Linked DNA regions of Homo sapiens. The protein of the gene in region 2 purifies or fractionates together with the protein of the main gene of each other region. This does not show direct contact. Each region holds a gene or a part of one and is shown on either strand. Other genes may lie near its edges. The genes, in order: CTNNAL1, ADRA1D, UTRN and DTNA.

Region 1 (7,700 bases), on a different chromosome or scaffold from region 2:
ACAGTCAAATTTAAAATAAACATTTCCTTTAAAGCCAGAAACCAGAGTGGGGTGCCTGCTATGCTTCTACTCAGCACTGCACTGGAAATTCTAGCCAGTGTAATATGACAAGGAGAAGAAATAAAAGGAATAAATATAGGAAAGGAAAAACCAAAAGTCTCAGTGTGATATAATAACCTATGCAGAAAACTCAAAACAGTCTACAAGTAAATTATAAAAATTAGGAGTGTTGGCAAGTTCACTGAGTGTAGGATACTAAAATCAATTGCATTTTTCTACATTGATAACAAACAAGGCACAGGCGCACTGGCTGGTGCCTGTAATCCCAGCTACTCTAGTCTCAGCTATTCAGGAGGCTAAAAAATGGGAGGATGGCTTGAGCCCAGCAGCTGAGGGCTGCAGTTAGCTGTGATCACGCCACTGTGCTCCAGCCTGGCCAACAAGGACCCTGTCTTTAAAAAATAATAAAAAAAAATAGAAAAAGTAATTATTAAAAAAATCCAGTTATATTAACAGTAACAGCAAAATATGAGCTTCCTAAGAATATGTTGCTTTTGCTATGTATATAAAGAGAAAGAGCTCTATCTCTATGTATACACAGCAAAAGTGGTCAAACTTCATGGAGAAAATTTAAAAATTTTATCAAAAGCCAACATGGATCTAAATAAATGGGAGAAAAGTACTGTGTTCAAGCCTAGGTTGACATATTATAGACATATCAGTTATCCCTATTGGTCAATTTAATGCAATTTCCATGAAAATTTCAGCAAGATTTTTCAGTAGAACTTGATAAAAGTAATTCTGAAGTTTATATGAAAGCACAAAGGGCCAAGATTAGGCAGAAGAGAAACAAGGTGGATGGACTTGCTCTGCCAGATTTCAAGACTCATTATAAAACTATAGTAATTAAGACAATGTGGGTATCAGAACAGGGTTGAAAAACATAGACCTGTGATACAGAATAGAAAACCCTAGAACAGATCCACACATATATGGAAACTCGGTAAATGACAATTGGCATTGCTGGTCAGTGGGGAAAGGAAGAACTTAAAAAAAATTAAGCTGGGACAATTGGATATCTAAATAGAAATTATGAAATTGGATCTCTGTCTCATACCAGTAAAAAGTCAACTTCAGATGGATTAAAGACAATATGAAAGTAAAAGCTCACAACACTTTTAGAAAAAAAAAAATAGGGCAGTATCTTCATTACCTTATGCTGGGAAAGGATTTGTTAGTATACCACAAGTATAAACCTTAAGAAAAAAATGGATAAATTCGACTTCTTTAAAATGAAGAACCTAGGCCAGGCGCAGTGGCTCACACCTGTAGTCCCAGCTCTTTGGGAGGCTGAGGTAGGTAGATCATTTGAGTCCAGGATTTTGAGACCAGCCTGGGCAACATGGTGAAACCCCGTCTCTACAAAAAATACAAAAAATTAGTCGGGTGTGATGGCATGCACCTGTGGTCCCAGGTACTCTAGAGGCTGAGGTGGGAGGATTGCTTGAGCTGGGGAGGTTAAGCCTGCTGTGAGCTGTGATCACAACACTTCACTCAGCCTGGGTGACAGAGTGACAGAATGAGACCCTGTCTCAAAAAAAAAAAAAAAAAAAAAAAAAAAAAGAACCTCTGTTCATCAAAAGGAAAACGTAAGTCATTAAGTGGGAGAATATGATTCCAACACAAATAACCAACAAATGATTTGTAGTACCTAGAATAAATAAAATACTCCAATGAATAAAAAATAAAAAGATTAGCCATTAAAAATTGGTCAAAAAATAATTTCACAGAAGAGGAAACAGCTAAAAGATATAGGAAAAGATATTCAACTTCATTAGAACTCAATGAACTACAAGCTAAAAAATCCACAGTGAGAATAAGTGTTGGTGAGGAACGTGGAGATGGTAGCAATATCCGTGTTACAACCATTTTGAAAATGGTTTGTTGTAATCTATTATAATTGAAGGTGGGCATTACCTGTGGCCCAGCAATTCCACTCCTAAGTCAGTACCCCTAGAGAAACTCCTACACACCTATTAGAAAAGTGGATTGGGGCTGGGCGTGGTGGCTCACGCCTGTAATCCCAGCACTTTGGGAGGCTGAGGTGGGTGGATCACCTGAGGTCGGGAGTTTGAGACCTGCCTGACCAACCCCGTCTCTACTAAAAATACAAAAGTTAGCTGGCGTGGTGGTGCATGCCTGTAATTCCAGCTACTTGGGAGGCTGGGGCAGAAGAATTGCTTGAACCTGGGAGTCAGAGGTTGCAGTGAGCCGAGATTGTGCCACTGCACTCCAGCCTGGTAACAGAGTGAGACTCTGTCTCAAAAAAAAAAAAAAAAAAAAAAAAGAAAGATGGATTGGAATGTGGATAGCATTTTTACTTCTGATGGCCCAAAACTGGAAACTTCCCAAATGTCTTTTAACAGTAGTATGTTTACATAAATTGTGCTATGTTCATATAATGATATACTCTGTCACTGAAATGAATAAACCACAGCTATAATTATCAATGGGGATGAATCTCAAAAACATAATGTTGAGTGAAAAAAAATAAAGGTTCAATACCAGATAAAACTAAACCAGATATCATTTAGGGTATACTGTATGTACAATAGTTATAATAAAGGAGTGGTGAACACAAAATTGGGACAATGGTTTCTTTTGGGACAAGAGAGTGATATGGACAAGGAGTAGCCAGATAGTACATGGGCTGTCAGAGATACTGACATTGTTCTCTTAAGCTTGGTGGTGGCTGCACAGGTCTTTCTTTCATTTCTTTAAACTCCACACATATATGTTATATATACTCATATGTTTTATATTTTATAATTCAGACATTTTCTTGAAAAGCCCTGGGCTAAGAACCAAGCATATTTTATGTAGAGTACCTCCCCACCTCCTTTAATAATCACTTTATTCTTCCTGTCAGAACTCCCACTCCAAGTCTTATAATGCTTTTATCCAAGGAAGGGAAGAAGGATATCTGCCACAGAACTCCACCCTGGTGTGGAATATTATTCTACTGCCCACTAGTCTTTTCCTGTCTATGATAGATTTCCTTTATTCACTATTTGTACAGACCCCTTAAATTTCTAAGGTAGCCTACCTCATTTTCCCATTACTCTCTGCATTGTTCTGGAAGCTTTTCAGGATTCTTGTTGCAGTTATGTTGTCGATGAAGAGAGTAGATAAGGCGCCCTCTCTGCTCTTTGCTGATTTGTGTATGTGAATACATGCGTGTTTTTTTTTCTTTTTTTTCTTTTTTGTGATGGAGTCTCGCTCTGTCACCCAGGCTGGAGTGCAATGGCGGGATCTCGGCTCACTGCAACCTCCACCTCCTGGGTTCAAGCAATTCCCCCACCTCTGCCTCCCAAGTAGTTGGGATTACAGGCACCCAGGCACCTTACATCAAGCCCGGCTAATTTTTTGTTTGTTTGTTTTTTTGTAGAGATGGAGTTTCACCATGTTGGCCAGGCTGGTCTTGAACTCCTGACCTCAGGTGATCCACCAGCCTTGGCCTCCCAAAGTGCTGGGATTACAGGTGTGATCTGCCACGCCTGGCTGATGGGTACAATTATTATTTCCATTTTCACAGGTGAGAACACAGAGTCACAGAAAGGTCAGATAGCTTGCCACATGGTCACATGGCAGAGCCAGAATTCAAAACCAGGCAGAATGATGTCCATGCCCTTAACTGCTGGGATATTCTTTGGTGTTTTGCACTTCTTGACACCCTTTGTTAGAAGCTATCAAGTAAACCCTAATTCTTATTCTTTTATTCCACAGCAGAGTTCTTTAGTACACCAGATCTTCTTTCTTCCCCAAGGGATGCCTTTTCTGCCCTCTTCTCTGGTTCATTTAGGTGTTCTCTAGACTCTGGTGTCAGGGCAACTCCAAGTTATGACTCTCAATTTAATATCATTCCTATTTTTGCAGAACTATAGTTAAGATTGTATTTGGCATATTATGATTTACAAAGCACTCTTGCTAGTTGTCTTTTCCTTGATCCTTAACATAATCCTGGAAGGTAAGAGAGACGGTGTAGTGATTAAGAGTGTAGGTAGCTCCCCTGGCTTTGTGACCTCGGGCAAATACTTAACTTCTTCAAATTTCAGATTTTGTATCTGTAAAATTAGGGTAATAATAGTATGTACCTATTAGATGCTGGAGAAGCAAGCATTAAAAGAATTGATACATGTAAAACACATAGGCTAGTGCCTGGTACTGTTGTGCTTAACAAATGTTAGCTAGTCTTATTTTTTATATGATAAGGAAAGTGAAGTTTAATCTCAATTTTGTAAAACTGTGTATTTAAGTATCTATATGTACAAAACAAGACTGGAAAGAATTATGCCAGAATTCTCAGAGGTTAGTAGGATTATGGGTAATTTTTATTTCTTGAGGCTCTCCTATATTTTCCATTTCTGTTTATAAACAATAAACATGTATAACTTTTGAACCTACCTTTTAAAACATTTGAAACTAATTTTAGAATATAAGTAGACCTTAAATAAAGAATGTTACATATTGACTTAGTTCCTCTAAATAAAATTTTAAAGGCATACTATATTTGGATTGAACATTTCCTAGACTGCTTTCCAGTGAAAGGAAGGCAGCCACACCTAATTATGCACTGGGGAAGGCGCTTCTAGTGAAAGCAAAATGTGTCTTTTGGAACGGAACAATAGTTCATATTTTGGCTTAATTGCAGGATCTTTTCTTTGTAATTGAAATTTTAAAACTTTATGTAAATGAAATATTTAATAAACAGAATCACCTTAATCTGTTCGGATTGCTATAAAAAATAGACTGGGTGCCTTAAACAACAGAAATTTATGCCTCACAGTTATGTAGGCTGGGTAGTCTAGGATCAGGGTTCAGGCAGATTCAGTATCCAGTGAGGGTCCACATTCTGGTTCATGGACAGCTGTCTTCTCACTGTTCTCTCAGGGTGGAAATGAGTGAGAGAGCTTTCTGAGGCCTCTTTTAAAAGGCATTAATCCCATTCATGAGAGCTCCTCCCCCATGAACTAATCGTCTCCCAAAGGCCCCACCTCCTAATACCATCACATTGGGGGTTAGGATTTTAACATAAGGATTTGTGGAGGGGGAGTGGGAGGGGGAATGGGACACAAACATTCAATCTATAGCAAGAACTTAAACTCCTTTCCACTGCAGTCTCTTCCAAGATGGTAGCTTGGAATAGTCAATGCTGAGCAAGTTCTCTTTTTTTTTTCATGTGATAGTAACAATTCCCTAGAGTCTGTCAGGTGTGGAAAAGGATTAAGCTGGTGCCAGTAGGATTTGTTCTGTGCTTCCCAGCAGCATGGCCCACAGTCATTCTCCAAATTAAAATTATCGTGACTCTTTCACATGATTATGTAATGAGCTTTTAGGTAACATTTCAATTAAAAAAAATAGGAAAGATTGTAAACCTCCAGTAAAAGAAGGACTATTAGGTGGGATTTGGTGTCAGTTTAAACCTGGGTTCAAATTCTAAACTAGGCTACTTATTAGTTGTATGAGCCAAGTATGCAATTTTACTCAGCCTCAGTTTTTTAATCTTTAATAATACCTGAGGATTAAGTAAGATAGCTAATTATAGTATGTCTTTGAACACTTACAATAAACTGTTTATGGTACTATGTTAAACATAATGCTTTCATTATTTTATTAACTCTTCTTATTTATTTATTTATTTATTTATTTTTTTCAAGACAGAGTCTCGCTCTGTCACCCGGGCTGGAGTGCAATGCCATGATTTCAGCTCACTGCAACCTCTGCCTCCCAGGTTCAAGCAATTCTCCTGCCTCAGCCTCCTGAGTAGCTGGGATTATAGGTGCACACCACCATGCCCGGCTAATTTTTGTACTTCTAGTAGAGATGGGATTTCACCATGTTGGCCAAGCTGGTCTCAAATTCCTGACCTCGTGATCCGCCCACCTTGGCCTCCCAAAGTGCTGGGATTACAAGTGTGAGCCACTGCGCCCAGCCAACTCTTCTTACTAACATTATAAGTCAGAGAAGGCAATATGGCTAAGTGGCTAAGAGGCTAGTCTCTGCAGTCAGAATATCTGGATTTAAATCCTAACTCTCCCATACTTCTTGATGTCCAACTTCCTCATTTGTAAAATAGGGATGATTATTACCCCCATTTTCCAATTTGGGGAAATGAGGATGATTAATATTAACCTATTTCACTGGATTGTTGTACGACATTATAGGGTAATGTTTAGGAGTACGGTCTCTAGAATTGAAATGTCTGACTCTGAATCCTAACTCTAGCACTTATTAGCTGTGTGACCTTAAATAAGCACCTTTGAGCATCAGTTTCCTTAGGCTCATGATGTGAGCCTTCCCACTTGGCCGGTGAAGTGTCTTCATGACATGGGAATTGTCTTTCCCTAGGGTGAACCGAGAGAAAGAAAGATGAAAACCACAGTGACTTTATGACTTGCCCTCAAAAGTAGCATACTGTCACTACTGTTTTATTCTATTAGTTAGAAATAAGTAGCTAAGTTCAGCCTGTACTCAAGGAGAGGGGAATGAGACTTCACCTATTTAAGGGAGGAATAGCAAATAATTTGTGGACATATTTTAGAACTACCTACAGTCTAACCTCTGCACACAAATTGTTTACCTTATTCTCACCTGCAAGTAACCTCTTCCCATCCATATCCTCTCCAAAGTCACAACATCAGCTGGAAATCCATGATGTTGGCATCTATTACAAATATGATCCAGGAGAGACTTCTTGTATGTAGTAGTTCCTTAAGTGTAACGTCTTTCAGCTTTAGGATGACTACTATAGACTCTTCTGTTCAAAAAATGAGAAAATAGAAAGTATAGAATAACTGCTATACAGTCCTGTTCAAAAATGGAAAAAAAATAGGAGCCACTGGTTTATGGTATTCTGAACTCCTCCTGGGCAAATGTTGCCAGTTCCTTGATTAAGACTCAAGTCCTGGGAATAGTTCATGGCTCTTGATTCTGCCCTCTAAGTCATTATTTTACATGAATTGTAGCTCATGTTTGCAGCTGCGTAGATTTCTCAGCCTGTTCCCTGCTTATGGAAGTTTGGAGCAGGGGCTGGTATGAAAGCTTCTTTTCATACAAAGATGTATTCCCTTTTAGTCCAAGCTGATAGTGTTTCTGCCAATACGATTATCTTAAAAATTTTGTTGGTCTCCTGTGAGTCATATTGAATTCATTCTACTAGACAAAAGCCCACACCCACAAGTCTCTTTGATATATGCTCTTCTTTAACTTGGGCTTCTCCTGGGACTGCTGAGGAATAATATCTTTAGGCTTCTTGGGAGATCTGTTGTTTACCTGAATGGTTGTCTGAAGCAACACCTTGGACCTTTCTGAGATCTTAAGATTTTATAGTCGTACCCTTAGCTTCATCTTTAGATGCTTTCTTGACACAGCCCTAGATTTTATTTTTGCCTGGAAGCCATTGTTAATTTTAGTATGATGTGCCATCTGGAGAAGATTTTTTTTTTTGAGATGGAGTTTTGCTCTTGTTGCCCAGGCTGGAGTGCAATGGCACGATCTTGGCTTACTGCAATCTCTACCTCCCAGATTCAAGCGATTCTCTTGCCTCAGCCTCTCGAGAAGCTGGGATTACAGCCATGCACCACCATACCTGGCTAACTTTTTTCTTTTTTTTTTTTTTAGTGGAGATGGGGTTTCTCCAT
Region 2 (7,700 bases):
GAAAGAGACAATGGCCTCCTTCCTGTGCCCCCGGAAGCCCTTTCCACACTGCAGCCACAGTGAACTTTATATATTATAAATTAGATGTGTCACTCTCCTATTAAAAGCCCTCAATGCTTTCCCACTGTCCTGAGAACAAAATCCAAACTCTCTATCATCACCTATGAGAGGGTGACCTTCAAATATATTATTGTCCGAACCAAAATAGGACACTATGAATATTTACACTGGGACCACAGGCTGGAACTGGGGCCATGCAGACATGTGGTCCCCCTTCCTACAATGGAGATCTCAAATGAGAGCCATCTCCCTCTCTGCCCTCCCCCTCTCTGCCGTCACGGTCTTGCCGCTTCCCTCTGCTCTGGGCTCCTCCCCTCTGACCCTTTCTGGTTTCTTGCTGGAGCCCCTGCCTGTCCTCAGGCCTTTGCACTTGCTATTCTCTCCGACTTCGCTGTCCTTCCCAATCTCTCCTGGCCAACTCTATCCTTTAGGTCTTGGCTTAAATGTTCCCTCTTCAGAGGGACCTTCTTGGACCCATGACCCTCAGTGGTGTCCTTGTTTTCTCCCTTGAAGCACAAGGTTCGCTTCCTTCACTAGATCATTGGTTGTAATTACATCTGTGTGCTGCTTGTTTTGTTTCTGGGACTGGCCCAGAAGCTGTGTGAGGGCAGGGCTGTGTCACCTGGGTCATCACTGAGTCCACGGCACTCAGCATGGGCCTGGTATGTGGGGAGCAAAAGAGAGCACTGCAGTGAGGATCACAGGCTCTGGCGCCAATCCCAGCTCTGCCTCCCTCCCGCTAGCTGCGTAACCGTGGGCAAATCCCTTAACCCCTCTCTGCTGGCTTTTTTATCTATAAAATAGAGATGGGGTGATGGTAATCATGCCTATCTATAGGGCCATCGTGGAACTGTAGCTTTTGTAGTGGATACTCAATATAGGGTAAGGAATGAATAAGTAACCCTTGAAAATCATCCAGCCAAAGGTTGTTGCAGGGATGGGGCAAGCAACGGACCCTAAGCAACACACTAGGAGAAGCAGGCAAGTAAGCAGGGAAGAGAAAGTTGGTGCCCGCCCCTTTAGACATCCAAGCCCATCCCCCAGGCCCATCGCCCCAGCCCCTGCTCCAGCCTTGCCCAGCTGTGCTGGGCTCCTGGGTGCCCTCATTCAACCCCTGCCCCTCGGTTCACACTGGGCCCCTGTAGGGAACGCCCAACCTGTGTAGAATGCCAGCTCCCTGTTTTTTTTTCCTTTTAACTTCCTTTAAAATTTTAGCTTAATGCACAAATAAGGAGAAAACAATAAAACAAGCACCCACATGCCTGTAATCACCTATACTGAACAGATGTTAACATTTTGCCATATTTGCCTCAGACCCCTTCCTCTCTCTTTTCAAATAAATAGAACAAGCCATAACTAGATCCCCTCCTCCTGTCCCTTCCTCTTTCTCTCCCTGCCTCGCCAGAGATAAATCTGGAGTATATCACTCTTATACAGATGTTCATACTCTTACTACAAACATCTGTATCCATAATAATATACTGTTTTGTTTGTCTTTGAGATTTATATGAATGGCACCTTGCCATGCGTATCACCGTTCTTCAATTTGCCATTTCACCCAACATTATGTGGCTGAGATTTATCCATGCTGGGCCATTTTCACAGCAGTACATTTGAGAGTATTCCACAGTGCGTTGATCCTGCTGAATGTTAGGTTTTTCTAACTCTTCCTTGTTCCAATCAACACTGCAAAAGGCCACTGCTTTCTTTGAGGTCCACGTCACGTGACTCCCTCTTCCAGGAAGTCATCCCTTAATTTCCATGACCTTTGCTCCTTGCTGGCACGCACAGCTCTTTCTCAATCCTTACATTTCTGCTGCGCCTCACATGTGGTGTAGGGAATTGGGGGGTGGAGGAGGCCCTAAATCCTCCTTCCTAATGGTCTGTGCTGCACCAGGCTTCTCAGGGCACCTTTCCGAGTGCCTCAGAGCAGAGCCCAGGGACACTGGTGGAGCTGAATTGAGTTGAATCTGGCAATGATGAGCAAACAGGACAGAGGCCAAACAAGGAAACAAAATATTCCGATCTGCCCCAGTATGGCTTGGAGGGCAGAAGCAGCAGAGAGGGAGGGCAGAGCCCATTTGGAGCAGGAGGGGTCTGGAGGCTGTGCAGGAAGGAGAGGGGGCCAGGAGGTCCTGACACCCCCAGCATGAGGCCCAGGCCTGGGAGGAGGGAGATACCTTTGAAGGAACAGGGAACACTGAGCAGCAACTTTTGGGGGGAATGTGGACCCCCAGGGGCTGGTATATGTTGGTGTGGAGGTACCAGGTGTGTGGTAGGGGATAGAGAACATTGGAAACTTGGATGCAGGGATCAAAGATGGGGATGGTTGCAGGAGCATGGAGTGCAGTCTCCCAGAAAGAGGAGGAGAGAGAAAAGAGGATCTCAGGACAGAGCTTTGGGGAGCATTGACGTTGAAAGACCCAAAGGAGGCAGAAAAAGAGGCAGCCAGGAGGAGCAGGATGGCTGTTGAGGTGGCACCTGCCTCCTCCCAGGTCCTGGTCACCACACTAGCTGTGACGAGCACCAGAGACGGAGAGATTGAGAAACAATGTATATGCCAGCAAGGAATGGGCCCACATAGGCCCTGGAAGTAAAGGCACCCAGTAGGGCCACAGCAGACCTGGGGTGCCCTCACTCACACTTCCGCACACAAAGCCAGGTGGTAGCAGCAGCCACAGCGGCCTGGAGGGCATCAAGAGTCTCAGGGAAGGGCCCGGAGTTCCAGAGGAACATTGGCACTGTGAGCCATGGGCTGTCACCTGTAAACCTGGAATGCTGTGGTCAGGCCAGAGGGGCAGCACCACAGGAGGGCTGTCCTGAACTGTGGGGGCATCTAAGGACCCAAGTCACTGGCTGGGAGACACTGGGACACAGATGTGGGCACCTAAAATCCAGAGAATCCCAGAGAGTAGCTGGGGATCATCCCCTACACTTCCAGCTGCCCCGCTTTCCCTGTGAGGAACAACTGCAGAGCATGTCCCCAAGGCAGGCAGAGGGTCAACCAGCTCATTAGACCGCAAGTGCCCCGATGCTGCGATTTCAGGGAGCAAGGCTGGGGAGGGCAGCACCAGCTCCTCTGGGACCCCCAGGAAGCTGCTGGTGCCAGAGGTGCGGAGGTGCGTGTAGAACGCCCCTCACCGAGAGAGAGGGGAGGGCACCCTCCTGCCCACGTTCCGTGGTGATGCCCAGTTGAGCTGCCTGCTCCGTGCATAGTGACCCAGGACAGTCCCGTTCCTTGCCTGTGACCGGTGGGATAGCTAGTAGTGCTCCCCTTTCAGTCAGAGATGCTCCACTTTGGAGATAGAACGTAGTGACACCAATCCCTGGGGCCTGTGAAGGAAGTGCTCTTGGCAGCCCCGCCCATGCCAGGTACAATCCCCTACCCTCACCGCAGCAAGCTGGTGCGGGCTGGGTGCCACGGAAAATCACAGGGAATTGTCTAAATCTGCCCTCCTCATCGGGATCCTTCAGCCGGATGCCCCGAGGAGCCCAGACTTGTAGAGTGAGTGTGGGAGGGGCCGCAGTGAGAGCCTGCTGCCTGCGGACTTCCAGAGAGGACCCAGAGAGAGGGGGCGTGGCTGCGGCGGGGCTGCGTCGTTGGGACAGTTGGGTAGGTTGGAAAAGTCCCTGATAAAAGCCTCTGAAGCCTCTGCGCTGAGAAGCTTCGTGCAAGAATCCCCTGACCCTAGAGGTCTAGGCCAATTGTGTAGAATGCAGATCATCCTCCCTGCGGGTGTGAGGGGTACCGGAGGGGCTGGGGAAACCCTGCCCCAGGCAAGCACCCAACTGCAGAGAAGCTTCCTCCTCTCCCGGGAGCCTCCAGAGGCCCGTGTCCCTCCTGCGTGTTTTCATGGCGGCAGCATCTCACTGCGTTTGGGTTTGGGCTGCCTGGTAAGTGTCCCCCAGCCACGCCCAGAGGTGGACTGTCTGCCGAGACCTACATACACACACAAACACACACACACACACAACAGCCCCACCCCTGTCACTCCTAGTGACCACTCACAGCTCCCAGGCTTTCGATCCCAGCTCTCTCTTGTTGGGCAGATCACCGAGCATCACTGACCTCCACCTTCCAAATGCCATCCACTCAAAGCAGCCCGGAGACTCAGAGCCCAGGGCCCCCCTCAAATGCACCTCAAGGCATACAAGCTGGGCAGAGGCTCTGATATCAGAAGTCCCAGGACAGCCCAGCCAATGTCCCACTCCAGCCATCTGTGAGCCACACCTGAGCCTCTCTCCTATCTTGTGAGTCTGTGCTCTGTGATAGTGCCTGTGTCGCTGACCACCCCCAGACTTAGATGTCCCATGTGCTTCTGAAACACTCTGCATGTACTTTTATCACGATGCACTGTAACTGTCAATATTCAGATATGCATCATGAAGTGTGAGGGCAAAGGGAACTACACACACGTAGGCACAGGAGTAGCAGTATTGCTGGGTTGCTCTGTGGTTTGGGAGACGTAAAACGTGTAGCCTATGAGAAGAGGGGTCAAGAGATGAGGCCAGATGCCATCTGCAGGAGAATGGATAAATAAACCATGTATCCATAGACTGGACCACGGTACAAGGAAAAATAGCAAACTACTGATGCACACATGGATGAATTTCATGGATGTTATACTGCGCAAAATAAGCCAGGTCTGAAACTCAAGGTGTACACACCTTTTGATTCTGTGTAGATGAAGTTCAAAAACAGGGGAAACTTATCAATGGTGATAAAATCCAGGATAGCGGTTACCCATCTGTGTGTGTGCAGTGAGTGTACTAACTGGAAGAGAATGCTAGAAAACTTTCTGAAGGGCTGGGACAGTTCCATACCTTGACCTGGGTAGTGATGACATTGGTGCATGCATATGCAGAGCCATCAGGCTGTGCTGTGTGCTTCAGATACACACGCTTTCTAAATTTGACTGTCTACATGTTATGCCTTTGTTACAGTGAGAGAGAAGGCAGGAGGAGGCAGGGGGGAGGCTGTGAGCCCTGCTTAGTAATTGGTGTCCAGGCTGGAAGGCATACTTTGGTGGCCCCGTGCGGAGAGTGGATTATGCATATGTCTGAGAGTCGGCCAGGTGCTAAAGGACTCATCTCCACAGGCTGCCTGAGGTTGTGCAGGGGTCTGTGGATGAAGGGGAGAGGCAAGGGATGCTTTGTGCTAGGTCTTCAGTAATGGCATCATTGTCTCCCGGCCCAAAAGCCTGAAGAAAGGGCTGGCATTACATCTCCTACCTGTGCTTTGTGGCACCTGGAACATAATAGGTGCTCAGTAAATGTGTGCAGAAGAAGGAAACGGTAGAACCCATGTTCTATTCCCATCCTGCCACACCAAGGGTCTGGGTGGCAAAGCACAGCCCTCCATTTATTTATTATTTTAATTTTCTTTTATTGTGGCAAGAGCATATAGCATGAGCTCTACCCTCTTAACACACTTTTAAGTGTAAATATCATATCATTAACTACATATCATTAACTATGGATACATATCATGTGATACTGTTGCACATCAGACCCCTAGAACTCATCTATCTTGCCAAACTGAAACTTTATGCCCATTGATTAGCAATTCCCAATTTCCTAGCGCCCTTTCTCCCTGGAAACCACCATCCCACTCTTTGAGTCTACGCATTTGAGTATTTTAGAGACCCCCATGTAAGTGGAATCATGCAGTATTTCTCCTTCTGTGACTGGCTTATTTCGCTTAGCATAACAGCCCTCTATTTAAAGTCAACTCTCTTTACTTGTTGTGGGTTGGGGGTGAGTCCCCATTTTTGTGGCCTAAAAAAAAAATCTTTAACAGGACAGTTAATATTTATTGAGTAATTACTATGAATAAGCAATGAGCTAGGGTTGGGTTTTTTTCATGTTTTTAACATGGAAAGTTTCAAACACATACATTGATAGAGAGAACCCTGTTAGTATAATGAACCCCTGTGTACCTGTGACCCAGCTTCACCCCAAAGCTAACCTAGATTCTTTCCATCCTCACCCACTGTCCCATCACTGTAGATTCTTTTGGATTTTTGTTTGTTTGTTTTTTGAGATGGAGTCTCTCTGTCTCCCAGTCTGGAGTGCAGTGGCGCAATCTCAGCTTACCGCAACCTCCACCTCCCGGGTTCAAGTGATTCTCGTGCCTCAACCTCCCAAGAAGCTGGGATTATAGGTGTGCACCACCATGCCCAGCTAATTTTTGTATTTTTAGTAGAGACGGGGTTTCACCATGTTGGTCAGGCTGATATCAAACTCCTGACCTCAGGTGATCCACCCACCTCGGCCTCCCAAAGTGCTGGGATTACAGGCATGAACCACTGCACCCGGCCACTGTAGATTATTTTGAAGAACATCCAGATACAGTATCCCTTCATCTGTAAATCCTTCAATATATAGTTCTAGAAGATAATAACTGTAAAAAAAAAAAAAAAAAGCCCACAATCCATTATAACACATAAAATCATTTAATATCATCAAATATCTACTTAGTGTTGAAATGTTGCTGGCTGCCTCGTAAATTTTTGGTTGGTTTGTTTGAAGCAGAATCCACAGAAGGAGCACACGTTGCATATGGTCGATTTGCCTATTAGGTTTCTTTACTCGGTAAGCCTCCACTGCTTTTTTTTCTTTCCATTTATTTAGTGAAGACACCAGATTGTCCCCAGGTGTATCCTGTAGTTTGGAGTTTGCATCTCCACAGTGCCATTTAATGTGTCCCTCTGTTCCCTGTACTTCCTGGGTGCAGATTTGGCCTGGAAAGAATTCTTCTTTTCTGTGGTGTCAAGATTGACCAGAATTCATGTGCTGTCAGCCTGCTCTGTCCATTACAAAGTGACCCATCGGCCTTTCACCTGCTGGTTTTGGCAGCCATTGACCATGGCCTGGACCCATTATATCACTGGGGCTTGAAGTGGGGATATTCTAATCCTATCATACCTCCTTCATTTATTCACTAGCATTCTAAAATGATTTCACCACTAGCTGTTTGGTTAAATAGAATCTGTACAGCAAAGGCAGGGAAGATGTTCAATATTCCTCTTTATTTATCAGAGGAAGAGTCAGTTCTCTAGCATTCTTTCCAGACGTGACCACTGAGGCTGTTTGAGTACCATGGTAATGTCATTATTTTTAGACATCCTTGCTGTTCCAACACATCACAGACATCATTGTTTTGGGCTTGGCCAGTGGGTACTCCTTCCAGTTGGCTTCTGAGATCTTTGGCAGAACCTGGAGCATCTTGAGCTCTTCTTTGCTTTCTGATCTGATAAGATGCTTCAGGCTCAGCTTGCATTTTTTCTGCCCTAGACCTGGAATTAGCCATTTCCCTAAAGAGCCCTAGTCTGTTTCAATGGAAGATGACTGAGCTGTTCATTGATACTGAGTTGGTCACTGATTCAATGGACAGATCTAGGAAGTACATTTTATTTTCAGTAGAAGAAAAACACAACACTGATGGGGACTTCTGTCCTTGGACATATATTCCTCCTTCCCCTCCCCTGAAGATCTTGTCCTCTGCCCAGCTCCTGCTGATATGTTTGTCCCAAACATCTGAGGAACTGTTGATCACCCTGCTCCATTCATTAAAGATCTGGGCATCAGAATCACACTGTTTTTTCCTCACTCCCACCCCTACCCTGGTCATCAGTGTG
Region 3 (7,700 bases), on a different chromosome or scaffold from region 2:
GCAACACTGGAGAATAGTTGACATGGGGCTTTTGTCACCTAATGTATACTTGCCCAATTTCATAGGAAACCTTTTATAGTTTGTATTATCATGTTTTTTCAAGCATTGGTGGAATTAGAAATGCATTCATTAGAGGACCCTAATTCTTTTTTGTTTTAAAGATGCATCTATTAAAAAATTTTTTTTAGGACAACAGTGGGAAGCTGAGAAATGGGGGAGCTGAACTGGATAAAGTCTGTGTGTTCCAGTTCAGTTAGGGAGGCATGTCAAATTCTTCAGTAAAACCCATATTTGAATAATCACGTCACTGTTTTTCTGAAACCAGTTCCATCAAAAAGCCCACCATAGCCAATTCTGATAGGTCTTTCCTGCCTAATGCATTTTACATAAGTTTTGAGGTATCTCATAGAGCATAGAAACAATTTTAGAAAATAAAATAGCGTGAGGCTGGGCGCAGTGGCTCACACCTGTAATCCCAGAACTTTGGGAGGCCGAGGTGGGTGGGTCACGAGGTCAGGAGATCAACACCATCCTGGGCAACATGGTGAAACCTCGTCTCTACTAAAAATACAAAAATTAGCTGGGCATGGTGGCACATGCCTGTAATCTCAGTTACTCAGGAGGCTGAGGCAGGAGAATCGCTTGAACCAGGGAGTCGGAGGTTGCAGTGAGCTGAGATTGCACCACTACACTCCAGCCTGGTGACAGAGCAAGACTCTGTCTCAAAATAATAATAATAATAATAATAATAATAATAATAATAATAATAAATAAAATAGTGTGTTTCATTTGACTTTCATAGCTGATATACTTGGTTTTCTTCGTTTAGCTTATCTTGTTCCTAGAGCTCTTCATCTAGTAAAATACAGTAGAGTAGTTGGGCATCTGGATAATGTGGCTTTATGAATCAATGCCCATTGTGGTTGCCTAAGCATATAAGCCCAGGAAGTTTGGTGAAGGTCCTATGTTTTGTAAACGTTTCCCTTGATTCCAATAGTGATAGACTGAGAAGTGTAAAGTCAAGTGAGACTGAGTGGCAGGAATGTGTTCTATGTTCTCCCTTTTAGACAATTAATAAAGTGATCTTCTGTTGATTTTGCCTTTTGACTAGTCACCTTCTAAGAACTCTGTGTTTTATAGAAATAGAAAATTTTAAACTCTGGATCTCTGGGAGTAAAACAACTATTTTTAAAGACAATGTGCAGTTTTCCTTTTATAAGATGTAAATTGTGTTTGAATCATTACCGGGCATCACTGTAACCAGCAATATCTCAGGATTAGAGAAAGGGAGATTCAGATGTTTAAAATTGGTTTAAAGAGGCAAAATGAATGGCTTGTAAGACATTGTCAGTGAAAAAATAACTGAAGTTGTTTTAACCGCCCTTGTTCTTGAAGTGAGCACCTCTTTCCAGTTTTCTAGATGAGTAGTGGTAATTTTCCATCTCAGAAATTTTATTTACCTACTTAATTTTCTTCCTTGATTAGTATGAATTGTCCAACATAAAGATGATGTGGCTGGTGTTACTATTCCTTTGCCTGCCTAGAATAGAAATGATGGGGCAGGGGCATGACCCATATCTCCATTGTTCATATTGTTAGGAAAATGGTGATTTGTTTTGTATACTCTCCCCATTAACAGGGGTAATGCAGCATGGCTTGTGGTGTGAATGCTTTGCTTATGTCTCATATTCTCTTACCTGAGAGATGGTGGTGAACAGTGAACTTCTGCAATTGACATAGGTGACACATTCAAATGACAGCATGATATGCCCTCATTTATGATTTTCAGTAGACACAGTGTATTATAAAAATTTTCAAAGTTGCATTGTCTGTGGATCATACATGACTTTTTGTTTTTATGCCTTTGTTTTTTAGTTCAAGCTCTCATTATCCTGGATTTTGATCATATATGTTTATAAAGCAGGATTGTTTTATTGCTTTCCTACTCAATAAAAATGTGAAGCCATCCTTTTGGTATGCATGTTTTCCTCCGAATAGAAAGATTCCTTTGAAGATTTCCCATACTTTTTCATAGTCATTTTAGAGGATTTGAAGGTATTTTAGATTAAGGGAAGGACTATGATAAAACCTATTATTATATATGACTTTATTATTTTTAGGAACATTCTCTACTTTTCAAAAATATCGGACAAATAAAATGATAAGATTTCAGTAATAAAAATGGTGGCATTGTTTTCCCTGATGTGTTTCTAAAGTAGATCATCTTATTGCTGCCTCAGTCTTTTGGTATTTGCTTATTTATGTGCAAGGTCTCCAGTGGGCTTGCTGATGCTTCTAGAGCCTGGCTGCTGGCTTAATATTCCTGCACTCACCAGGTTGCTTCCCAGCATAAGGCATCCTCGCCATTCATTTTTTAATTTATATGACACTGTGCTTTGGTCACCAAGACCTGAGCTGCCTCCTAGTTTTTCTAGCCAGCTTTCTTTTTTTCTTAGGACAAAGGGTCTTCTTTCTGAAGTCGGGCCTAGACAGATCAAGGTAGTTGATCTTATTTCACTGGTTCAGGTGATAAACTAGCAGAGTAGAAGCATGGCATGGATGGAAACATATATTATCTAGAAAAGGCAGTGGCTGAAGTTCTACTGATGTGCCTGAATCGTTATTTTAAAATGTCTTTCTTCTTTGTTCAAGGAATTGAAATAAACATCATTATTTTTAAGTGCATCATTATAAATTTTTGTTGTTGTATTAAAAGGGACTTAAGAAAGTGATCATTATGTGTGACATTGCCTCACTATTCTGAGTGTTAGAATGTTCAGAATAAATTCAAGACACATTTTGTAATATATAGACTGTTTGCTTGTTTTTCATGTCTGCATAGAAGGCCTTCCTACTGAAGAAATAAAAAATGTTCTGGAGAAGGTTTCATCAGAATGGAAGAATGTATCTCAACATTTGGAAGATCTAGAAAGAAAGATTCAGCTACAGGAAGATATAAATGCTTATTTCAAGCAGCTTGATGAGCTTGAAAAGGTCATCAAGACAAAGGAGGAGTGGGTAAAACACACTTCCATTTCTGAATCTTCCCGGCAGTCCTTGCCAAGCTTGAAGGATTCCTGTCAGGTAAGGAGCCAACGGTCTGGAAAGTGGAGGAATTCTATGTGCAGTTCCAGAGTTAAGGAGGGCTTCTCGTATCATGAACTTTAAGTTAATGCTGCCCTGATTAACTTCCTGTGAGGATGTTCATCTTCAGTGAGTTGTGTGACCGTATTTTCTCTTCCTTAGCGGGAATTGACAAATCTTCTTGGCCTTCACCCCAAAATTGAAATGGCTCGTGCAAGCTGCTCGGCCCTGATGTCTCAGCCTTCTGCCCCAGATTTTGTCCAGCGGGGCTTCGATAGCTTTCTGGGCCGCTACCAAGCTGTACAAGAGGCTGTAGAGGATCGTCAACAACATCTAGAGAATGGTAAACCCAACAATTTTAAAATCTCCTGTCTCAGTTTGCCTTAATGTAAACATGACTCCCAACATTTAGAACTTGAGTACACTTGCTTGCTTTGCACCAACCTTCTCCATTTTCCTTTGTGCCTGTATTGTTCAAAGTCTTAAAGTCTTCTGTATTCAGATTCTTTTCCAGATTCACACCTTTTTGTAAACATACAAGCAAGTTTCACATTCTCTAAAATTGTGTCAGTAGGATATAATAATAATTTTTTTTTTTGTAGCTACAGGATCTCACTCTGTCACCCAGGCTGGAGAGCAGTGGTGCAATCATAGCTGCAGTCTTGACCTCCTGGGTTTCAGTGGTCCTTCTGCCTCAGCCTACTGAGTAGCTGGGACTACAGGCATGCACCACCATGCCTGGCTGGTTTTTTATTTTTAGTAGAGCCAGGGTCTAGCTATGTTGCCCACGCTGGTCTAGAACTCCTGGGCTCAAGTGATCTTCCCACCTCAGCCTCCCAAAATAACAGGTGTAAGCCATTATAACAGGTGATATAACAGCCTCCCAAAATAACAGGTGTTAGGCAAAATAACAGATGTTAGCCTCCCAAAATACCAGGGATAACAGGTGTCAGCCATTGTACCTGACCTGGATATAATGATTTTTAAAGATTTTTTTTTTTTTTTTTTTTGAGAAACAGGTGCAATTTCTTCCTTTGGTTGAGGAGGCCACTTAATATCATTGCTAGGAGGATCAAAATGAATGATCCCTTACTTCTGTTTCCTCAAAATAGTTAAAGTTTTGGCAGTCTCATACTGTCTTTTAAAAGAAATCATATTCCACTGTCAGATTCAGAAAAATTTTAGAGTTCTTACTTTTGGAATACACTTGGTTTTGGAAGGTTCACTGTTAAAGATTTTGAAAGCTCATCCCTCCTACGTTACACTATTTACTTCCTAGCTGCCATTTGAGTTAGGAACTGTGTTGCATTGTGCATTATTTTGTGAAATGCATTGAGCATTGTGTGAAATGCTCCACATGTAACCCAGCCTAACTTCAGCAATTGTAGATTGTGTGATGACTGGAAGTGTCTGTATGTGTGCATGCTAGGCAAATGTGTCGTATTGCCTTTCTTCTGAAAGTGCATCTGGACAGCATGTCTTTGTTCCTTGAATTCAGTTATGTGAAATATGTCTTTGAGGGTACCTCTTTCTCCACTTATTGGTACAAGCTGTGCTTTCACTTTTGACAAGGATCAGTAGGCAGTTTAACTTTTGCTGCTAGTTGGTTTCACCTCTTTGTGCTTCAAGAGAACTCACTTCCTTTCCACGCAAGTGTTACTTCTGTGATATTTTTACATTAGTGACTGAGGTAGACACTGTTCCAGCTGGCTGTTCAGTCATTATTTCTCAGGGTACCTGGGCAGCATGGTGGCAGTATTTCCATATAATCTCCTCCACTCTGGACCTGGGTTTGTCTACACGGTGGAGCTTACAGCAAGACTGGTTGAAGGGATCTTTGTTTTCTTTTATTCTTTGTGTAGCTGTTAAGGAAGAGGAGATTATATGGAACAAAAGGGACATTGTTGTTCCATCTTCAGAGAGACATTTCATCATGAAGAAATGAAGAAAAATTATAGTGGGTTAGTTAATATTTCAAACGTCAACATCCGCAGGAATGAAGTCACTGTCTGACTCTCAGAAATGCCAATGGAATGATCTATGTTGTTAATTAACAGAGACCCTTTTACATTTTAATCATGGGGTCTCCTTTGCCATGTATTGGAATTCATTTAGGATAATGGTCTATGTAATAATATTGGTTCCTAATATGATTTTTTCAAACTAAATATTTTTAAATAAACAGAACTGAAGGGCCAACCTGGACATGCATATCTGGAAACATTGAAAACACTGAAAGATGTGCTAAATGATTCAGAAAATAAGGCCCAGGTGTCTCTGAATGTCCTTAATGATCTTGCCAAGGTGGAGAAGGCCCTGCAAGAAAAAAAGGTAACATATATCTTCCATGTTAGAACTCTAGCGCTTCTTCTAATATCTCCTCTTACATATTTTGAAATGTTTTTTCAGAGATTAAAAAAAAAGTTGGTCAGTTTTGTTCATCATTGGTGCAAAAATGTGTTTATGATTTGAGGGTTAGTTTGACCTCACATAAAAGAAAGTACAGTTATTAAAAATTTTTTCATAGAAGAAAAGCATATTTTCTCCTTCTGCTGTGATTAGCTTAAAATTCTCAACCTGTTCATAAAATCTGCTAAAATATCTTTATGAAATGAGGACTATCAGTTGACGTGTTGATGTATACTTTTTTCTGCATCGAATAGGAATGTTTCCGAGGTCATTTAGTTGAGTAGCCTTATGGCTCTGTGCTATTAGATGAAAAGGAGAGCAGCCATTGAGCACTGCACACTTGGCCCACACTGGGTTTGCTGTTCCCTTGGTTTTTAGGGTTGAGAATACACTGTATTGCCCACACACAACTCATGAAGAAAAAGCTTTAATTTTTATGATTATGCCTATTTTTTTCATGAGTTTTTCATGTTTTGTTTTGTTTTGTTTTTTGATTTCCAACTTTTATTTTAAGTTCAGGGGTACTTGTGCAGGATGTGCAGGTTTGTTAAATGGGTAAACGTGTGTCATGGTAGTTTGCTGCACTACGTATTAAGCCCAGCATCCATTAGCTCTTCTTCCTGATGCTTTCCCTCCCACCATGCCCCACCCTCCAACAGACCCCAGTGTGTGTTTTTCCCCACCATGTGTCCGTATGTTCTCATTATTCAGCTCCCACTTATAAGTGAGAATATGCGGTATTTTTTTTTGTTGTTTCTGAATTAGTTTGCCGAGGATAATGGCTTCCAGCTCCATCCATATACCTGCAAAGGACATGATCTTGTTCCTTTTTATGGCTGCATAGTATTCCATGGTTGATATGTACCACATTTTCTTTAAGTAGTCTATCATTGATGGGCATTTGGGTTGATTCCTTGTCCTTGCTATTGTGAATTGTGCTGCAATGAACATAGTGTGCATATATCTTTATAACAGAATGATTTGTATTCCTTTGGGTATATACCCAGTGAGATTGCTGGGTCAAATGGCATTTCTGGTTTTAGGTCTTTGAGGAATCACCACACTGTCTTCCACAGTGGTTGAACTAATTCACACTCCCACCCACTGTTCTTTTTAGATAAAAATGCTTTCTAATGCATTTTAAAGTGACTTTTGACTTTATATAGCCCATTTTACTATATCTGTGCAGACACATTTTTGTGCATATTTTTAATCTTTTAAAACTTTTTCCAGACCCTTGATGAAATCCTTGAGAATCAGAAACCTGCATTACATAAACTTGCAGAAGAAACAAAGGCTCTGGAGAAAAATGTTCATCCTGATGTAGAAAAATTATATAAGCAAGAATTTGATGATGTGCAAGGAAAGTGGAACAAGCTAAAGGTCTTGGTTTCCAAAGATCTACATTTGCTTGAGGAAATTGCTCTCACACTCAGAGCTTTTGAGGTAAATCCAGAGGCCACTGGGAGTTTAAGTTTATTACGGGGTAAATAGTAATTATCTTATAAGATTCACGTATTTATTATTTAAATATTTTACATTCTTTCTAGATCCCCATTTATTATGTATTTAAGTTGGGACTTATCAAAGATGTACTTTTAATGTGCTAGAGAGCACATTTATTTCCTTTTGCCTGGAAGCAAAGTCAAAAGTAGAGTAAACTGGACCTTGAAGATAAGAGAAAATTGCTTAAAAATGGTCAAAATAATGTTTCAGGCATGGAGGGCCTGTGTGAAATACAGACTGTTGATTAGATTATAGTAGTAACTTGGTTGGGGTGGTAGAAATAGCCCAGGTAGTAGTAAATTGCTGAATACATGAAACTACTTTTTGCAGGTTTTTGACATTTGAAGTCAAAAGTCAGAGATAGGCCATTGACAGTGTCAGAGTGGGAAGGCAAATCGTTCCAGGGACATGAAAATTCAGAAACAGGATCCTTCACTACACCTGAAAATGTTGACAGATGCAGCAGTGATAAAGTTTAAGAGGAAAGGATAAATGTGAGGATGTATAAGGAGAGAGTCAATGTCAATAGAAGTCAGTGTCAGATTTTAACATTCTGCCTGTGAGAAAGATGGAGAAGCAGAGTTTCCAGGTCACCTGGTATTTTAATAGGAAAGTTCTGGGTGGAGAATGAACCAATCACACTCTCTCCCTGCAAGGCTTCCTATCCTCCAGTGACTCCTTACCTTGGTCTTTTTTTTTTT
Region 4 (7,700 bases), on a different chromosome or scaffold from region 2:
GCCATGGTATTCTCAAAGCTCCTCTGCCTTACCTGTGTCTTAACCCAAACAGCATCATTCCCTGCTGGAAATCCAGTACAACAGAGGCATTGTTCTTTCATTGCCTGTATCTACAATGTTTAAGTATCTTTAATTATGCTTTTATTGACTTTCTTATTTCAGTTAGATTTCAGAGCCAGCTAATTTTCCATACAATTCTTTTTGTACAGAGGATGACAATCAACCCACCCCTACCAGCCCACATTATAGGGAAAGGAGATAAGAACCAAACTTTGAACCTAACTTTGTTCTAGAGTCTGGTTGGGTTCTGCCTGGGTCCACCTGCTTGACTTTGACTTTGTGACCCTTCCACCCCCTCATGACTATGCCTTGGCCAGCCTCTGGCCTGATTCCCTTTTCTGGCTGCCAACCTCGCACTAGCTCCCTTAGGTTATAAAAATATTAGCGCATTTAATTCCTAGTAAGACGGCAATGAACAAATTGACATATTATTCAAATACCAAGCTTGGAAGGGAATTCCATTTGCTCTTATTAGTACCATTAGCAGCAGTCATTCTCTGTCAGAAGGTCAGAGCCATGTAGATGAGTATATAGAACATTTCAATGAGGCCCATTCTTTGAGGTAAAAACTTCAACTGTGCCAGTCAAACTGATTGACAGTATTTGGGTAGAAGAAGAGTTTCTCCAATTTATAAGGGCATGCTCCTAAACAAAGCTTTCTTTACACTTTACATAAGAAAAATCCAGAGCTGCCCTAAAAATCTTGTTACTATTTCTGAGCAGTGTCGGTGTAGAATGACATAAATACCGGAAAGTCTTCTAAATCTTATTACATAATGATAATTGCTAACATTTTTGCAGGTTTACTATATGTCAGGCACTTTGTGAGCACGTTACAAGTATCATCTCTGTACATATTATAAAATTAACATAGATTAAGAGTAGGCAGGATGGCGTAGTAGTTGAGCTGATTAAATAGAGCTCTCTCTGATTAACTGTATGCTGTTTGGGGGATTACTTAACCTCTCGGGCCTTAATTTCTTCATCTGTAAAATAAAGATGGTAAAAGTACCCTGCTCATAGGGTTGTTGTGAGGATTGATGGAGAGATAATAACTACTTATTTTTTTATTTTTTTATTTTTTGAGATGAAGTCTCACTCTGTCACCCAGGCTAGAATGCAGTGGTGCGATCTGGGGTCACTGCAACCTTCACCTCCCTGGTTCAAGTGATTCTCCTGCCTCAGCCTCCTGAGTAGCTGGGACTACAGTAGACCCACACCACCATGCCTGGCTAGTTTTTGTTTTGTTTTTGTATTTTTAGTAGAGACGGGGTTTCGCCATGTTGGTGCCAGACTGGTCTTGAACTCCTGACCTCAGGTGATCCACCCACCTTAGCCTCCCAAAGTACTGGGATTACAGACGTGAGCCACTGCATCCCACCACTACTTACATTTCTTCAGTGATTTCCATGTTCTATGACTGTTCTCCAAAAAAAAAGGGTTAATTGCCTTAAATAGGTTAAACAAAAAGTACTTAGAACAGTATCTGGCACTTAGAAAGTCTTCTATTTTCTTAAATCCGAGAACTCATGGAACTCTCACATGATGTGCTCCTCTCTGTCCTGCTGTATGTTCAGGTTTCCTAGTATCAAGCCACACATGGTCAGCACATTGCCCAAATGGCTGCTATTCTTTCCTCACTCACTCTGGCTTGTAGTTACTGCCAAAGTCCTCCTTACAGTCAGACTAATGCCCATACTCTTCAGTAATACCTTTCTCCTTTCATTTCTTTATGACCAAGACCATACTCCACCTCCTCCACCATTTTTCTGCATTTTCCACCCTTCTTTTTTTGACTGCAGTGATCATAAGGCTTTGGAAGAAATAAAACCTAACGTCTTATTAGAAAACAGTGGGGGCTTTGATGCTGGAATAACAGCTTCTACTGTCTTCCCACCTATAAATGAACCTGGATATACTGCCAAGAGAAAAAAGTCCATCAAAATGGGGTAAAGACTGGAGAAGAATAATGTACCCAAATCATAAATTCAACAGACGATTGCTTTTTTGACCTTTCTAAACGATGCCTAATTATATACTTTTAAAATTCTTGTATTTTTGGAAGAAATAAAAACACTATTTGTCAAAATCAAAGAATGTTAAGATTTTAACGAAAGAGGAAGTCTCATAAATATTAAGTTTCCACCTCAGTTACATTACATCCCCAAACAAAATTGTCATGTGTCATACATTTCAACTACATACATGATGTAGTTGCGCCTACTTCCAAGAGGATGATTTATGTAAGTTGGTCCTGTTTGAAAAACTTGCATATTGTAAGATACGCTCAGTTTCCTTGGCCACAAAAATCCTGCTCCAGCATTGTATGCAGTAATCGACAATTTTCAAGGGGGCTTAAAAGATAAATCAGTTGTTCTCTACCTGACTTATTGTAAAGAGAAGCAACAGACAAAACACCTCTCAAATCTACTCTTTTTAAATTCTACTTTCATCCCCTTAGCTCATAACCTCCCTCATACTTGTTCTGGATTGTAACATTAACTTCTGGACTCATTTCTGTCTACACACTAGTCTATTTTCTGTGCTGCTGCCATTATTACATTTCCAGACATTTCTGATTCTCATCTCTCCCTGGTTTTCCCATACTGTTCTGTTTCTCAAGATCCTCCTTTCCCCAGCTTCCTATTGAACACTGGCCATTTCTTTAAGGTTTATCCCAGTGCTTCCTTCTCCACACAGCATTTTCTCTCCCCTCCTCTGTAATATCTGCTCTGCACCATTTACTCCTTAGGATACTCCAAGGATTTCCTGAATCAAGGAACTCTGCACTACTACTATCTTTTCAATGTCAGTGTCCAACACAAATATATTCAATATAAGGTTTTTTAAAAAAAATAAATGAGAAAATGAATGAGCATTAAAATTCTTAAGCAAACAAAACTACAGACTACTTGAGACCAACACTTCTCTGGAAAATCTTGGACTTGCAGTCACTAGAATCAAAGGATTTCATTGATCTGTATTTCTGTAGATAAAAGGGAAATTGCACAAAGAATACTCACCTTCTTGTCCTATCTATATCATCCGAATTTAGCAGAGGTGCTTGAAATTAACCTCCGATATTAAATAAAAGACCCTATTTGTTGTGCTTAATTCTAGAGTGTCACTGTCTATTAAGATAGCACTAGACACACGTGGCTATTTCAATTACTTAGCATTAAATAAGATTTGAAATCTGTTTCATCAGTCGCACTAGCTACCTTTCAAGTGTTTAATAGCCACATGTGGCTAGTAGTTACTATATTGGACTAAGAAGATATAGAGCATTTCCAGCATCACAGAATTTTGAACAGATTGCTCTGGAGCTCTGCCTCTCCACCACACCTAAATGTAGGTGTGGCCCAGTTATTCAAGCCCAGTTATCCTCTGCCCATCCTTATATGAGCAGAAATTTCTTTAGAATAAATTTCAAAAACTAATAATTGGAATGTATACCCTATTTAAAATATTTTGTTATTTTCTCTCACAGTCAAGGCATTCCAGATTTTACCATTTGGTATTGAATTTCAGTGAAATTATAAAAATCTACCCTTCCCACTTGATATGAGACTTCTTATTTGCAAATCAGCGGTGAAGACAAACACATATACATGGGTAAAGGGATTCACAGACTTTTCTACTCTTTAACATTATTATTTTAATAATTTCATAAATTTGCATATTTATATTAACTCAGCTAGTTAGTAGCATGATTCAGGCATTCCAATTCTTAAGCCAAGACTCTTTTTCTACACCATGTTGCCTATACATGTTCCATCTAAAGAGTTGGGAAGTCAACAGTTAGACCAGCATATAGCCATGTCTATGACTTCTTGCAGCTTTTTTTCTTTCTTTCTTTTAATTGAGATGGAGTTTCACTCTTGTTGCCCAGGCCGGAGTACAATGGTGTGATCTCGGCTCACTGCAACCTCCGCCTCCTGGGTTCAAGCGATTCTCTTGCCTCAGCCTCACAAGTAGCTGGGATTACAGGCGCCTGCCACCACGCCCAGCTAATTTTTTGTATTTTTAGGACAGATGGGGTTTCACTACGTTGGCCAGGCTGGTCTCCAACTCCTGATCTCAGGCGATCCACCCGCCTCGGCCTCCCAAAGTGTTGGGATAACAGGTGTGAGCCACGGTGCCCGGCCGACTTCTTACAGCTTTATAGCTTCTAGAGAGGAAATACGAGCTCATGTGTTTTCTATATTTCTTGGATTTTCTTTTTCAGACTGCTATTGTCTGAAACAACGAAAAACTATGTAAATACGTTAGACTATTTATTTTGTTAGGACATATTCCTAGTAGTAGAACTGTAGGGCCCAAGGATATGCAATTTTTAAAGACTTTGCTACACATTGCCAGCTTGATCAACTCCCCACCTGCACCCAGTGTACACTGCTATATGATAGCAGTGTATATGTGTTCCCATTTTCCAGACTTTTCCTAAACCAGACATTATCTCCCCCTTCCTCCTTTTGCTTTCCCCTTTAAAAAATAGTTGCTAATTATTAAAATGACATGTGTTTAATTTGTAGATATTTTTAAAATTAAAAGGGAAGTGCTTTTTCTTACAGATTTATGAGACCTCATTACATAACATGGATATTCACTTTTTCTCTTTCATATATGTTGCAAATGTTGTTTCTAATTTGCCATTTATCTTTTTAATTTTGTATATAACATATTCTAGAAGGAGTAAGTTTTCATATTACCATTCCTTTATGATTTTTGTCTTTGAGGTCATCCTTTTCTATCATAAGTTCTATATTTTCTTTCACTACTTTCATAGATCCATATTTTATACTGGAATTGCCAATCCATCCAGTATTTTCTTTCATGTCAGGGATGTGTAGAGGTAAGTAATTTTTCTGAGTAAATGTTCCACCAAACAAATCAAAATTAACAGGTTTCAGATATAAAATATTGTTTATTTAAAATAAATAATTAAAAAATTAAAAACAATTAAAATATTGAAATGGTGTCTAGTGAACATTTCATAACATGTGTGTTTGAGAGTGGGGAATTATTATAGTAATACCACTCTAAAATATCCAGCTAATAATACCATGAAGTGAAGACCAGTTAATTGCCCCTTTATATACTAAAAATATAACTAATTGTTCTTTCCTAGAAATGAGTTTGCATTTTTCCTGTCAGATACTGACCCACACATTGTACAATTCTTGATAAGTTTAATCATTTTTTTTTCTATTTTTTATTATTATACTTTAAGTTTTAGGGTACATGTGCACATTGTGCAGGTTAGTTACATATGTATACATGTGCCATGCTGGTGTGCTGCACCCACTAACTCGTCATCTAGCATTAGGTATATCTCCCAATGCTATCCCTCCCCCCTCCCCCCATCCCACAACAGTCCCCAGAGTGTGATATTCCCCTTCCTGTGTCCATGTGATCTCATTGTTCAATTCCCACCTATGAGTGAGAATATGCGGTGTTTGGTTTTTTGTTCTTGCGATAGTTTACTGAGAGTGATGATTTCCAGTTTCATCCATGTCCCTACAAAGGACATGAACTCATTATTTTTTATGGCTGCATAGTATTCCATGGTGTGTATGTGCCACATTTTCTTAATCCAGTCTATCATTGTTGGACGTTTGGCTTGGTTCCAAGTCTTTGCTATCGTGAATAATGCCACAATAAACATACGTGTGCATGTGTCTTTATAGCAGCATGATTTATGGGTGGCTGGGTCAAATGGTATTTCTAGTTCTAGATCCCTGAGGAATCGCCACACTGACTTCCACAATGGTTGAACTAGTTTACAGTCCCACCAACAGTGTAAAAGTGTTCCTATTTCTCCACATCCTCTCCAGCACCTGTTGTTTCCTGACTTTTTAATGATTGCCATTCTAACTGGTGTGAGATGGTATCTCATTGTGGTTTTGATTTGCATTTCTCTGATGGCCAGTGATGGTGAGCATTTTTTCATGTGTTTTTTGGCTGCATAAATGTCTTCTTTTGAGAAGTGTCTGTTCATGTCCTTTGCCCACTTTTTGATGGGGTTGTTTGTTTTTTTTCTTGTAAATTTGTTTGAGTTCATTGTAGATTCTGGATATTAGCCCTTTGTCAGATGAGTAGGTTGCGAAAATTTTCTCCCATTTTGTAGGTTGCCTGTTCACTCTGATGGTAGTTTCTTTTGCTGTGGAGAAGCTCTTTAGTTTAATTAGATCCCATTTGTCAATTTTGTCTTTTGTTGCCATTGCTTTTGGTGTTTTAGACATGAAGTCCTTGCCCATGCCTATGTCCTGAATGGCAATGCCTAGGTTTTCTTCTAGGGTTTTTATGGTGTTAGGTCTAACGTTTAAGTCTTTAATCCATCTTGAATTGATTTTTGTATAAGGTGTAAGGAAGGGATCCAGTTTCAGCTTTCTACATATGGCTAGCCAGTTTTCCCAGCACCATTTATTAAATAGGGAATCCTTTCCCCATTGCTTGTTTTTCTCAGGTTTGTCAAAGATCAGCATTCTTATACACCAACAACAGACAGAGAGCCAAATCATGAGTGAACTCCCATTCACAATTGCTTCAAAGAGAATAAAATACCTAGGAATCCAACTTACAAGGGATGTGAAGGACCTCTTCAAGGAGAACTACAAACCACTGCTCAAGGAAATAAAAGAGGATACAAACATTCCATGCTCATGGGTAGGAAGAATCAATATCGTGGAAATGGCCATACTGCCCAAGGTAATTTACAGATTCAATGCCATCCCCATCAAGCTACCAATGCCTTTCTTCACAGAATTGGAAAAAACTACTTTAAAGTTCATATGGAACCAAAAAAGAGCCCGCATCGCCAAGTCAATCCTAAGCCAAAAGAACAAAGCTGGAGGCATCACACTACCTGACTTCAAACTATACTACAAGGCTACAGTAACCAAAACAGCATGGTACTGGTACCAAAACAGAGATATAGATCAATGGAACAGAACAGAGCCCTCAGAAATAACGCTGCATATCTAAGTTTAATCATTTTTGATGACAGCCTCTATCGCTTATTGAACAAAACCAAGATATTTTATAATAAAGTCTGATAATAACATACCAAGCACCTCTATTCCTAGTGACTTATAAATGCTATTAACATAATTAATTAAATTTGAGGGTTAATTTCTGAGAATCATACTACCCATTAGTAATTTCCACTTTCCTTCTAAGAGCATTGGCCTTTTACTACACAAAGAGGCAAGAGCTTTCTAATCTATCTTATTCTCCAAATTAATCATTATTGTCGTTATCATTATCATCATGATCATGGTACCATTACTTTCTTTTTCATTTGAAAAGTCTTAGATTTCTAAAAAAAAAATCCAATTCTTTTCATGTCAAAAATTACATAGTGGTCAATAATAAAATTCACCTTAATAAAATCGGAGGTTAAAAAATAACTCCTAAAAATGGAGTATCTAGATGATATTGAGTCATCATTCATTGGCTTGATCTTCATCTATTTTAGAAATATTTTCTTGGAATTTAAATATCATTAATTTTTTAGCAGAGGCTATACTATTTTACTCAATATGGTTGTTTTTTAACATGTTAAAAAACTGTTAAATATCTGTCTCCTTAGTAGAGGTAAATGTTTGCAGATAATTATCTATTGGTCTATGACTCTA

What was found.
Region 1: the proteins of ADRA1D (region 2) and CTNNAL1 purify together in Homo sapiens (tandem affinity purification; 3 studies listed by IntAct, with this or other methods). This does not show direct contact.
Region 3: the proteins of ADRA1D (region 2) and UTRN purify together in Homo sapiens (tandem affinity purification; 4 studies listed by BioGRID and IntAct, with this or other methods). This does not show direct contact.
Region 4: the proteins of ADRA1D (region 2) and DTNA purify together in Homo sapiens (tandem affinity purification; 4 studies listed by BioGRID and IntAct, with this or other methods). This does not show direct contact.

The regions. Positions count from the first base shown.
Region 1 is NC_000009.12:109,002,800-109,010,499, reverse strand, and holds part of CTNNAL1 (alpha-catulin), read left to right. Parts: intron 1-3,693; exon of another isoform or gene 3,694-4,020; intron 4,021-6,317; exon of another isoform or gene 6,318-6,404; intron 6,405-6,651; exon of another isoform or gene 6,652-6,817; intron 6,818-7,700. UniProt on the Homo sapiens protein: May modulate the Rho pathway signaling by providing a scaffold for the Lbc Rho guanine nucleotide exchange factor (ARHGEF1).
Region 2 is NC_000020.11:4,239,192-4,246,891, reverse strand, and holds part of ADRA1D (alpha-1D adrenergic receptor), read left to right. Parts: intron 1-7,700. UniProt on the Homo sapiens protein: This alpha-adrenergic receptor mediates its effect through the influx of extracellular calcium.
Region 3 is NC_000006.12:144,455,928-144,463,627, forward strand, and holds part of UTRN (utrophin), read left to right. Parts: intron 1-2,842; coding exon 2,843-3,084; intron 3,085-3,246; coding exon 3,247-3,427; intron 3,428-5,269; coding exon 5,270-5,415; intron 5,416-6,726; coding exon 6,727-6,939; intron 6,940-7,700.
Region 4 is NC_000018.10:34,712,788-34,720,487, reverse strand, and holds part of DTNA (dystrobrevin alpha), read right to left. Parts: intron 1-7,700. UniProt on the Homo sapiens protein: May be involved in the formation and stability of synapses as well as being involved in the clustering of nicotinic acetylcholine receptors.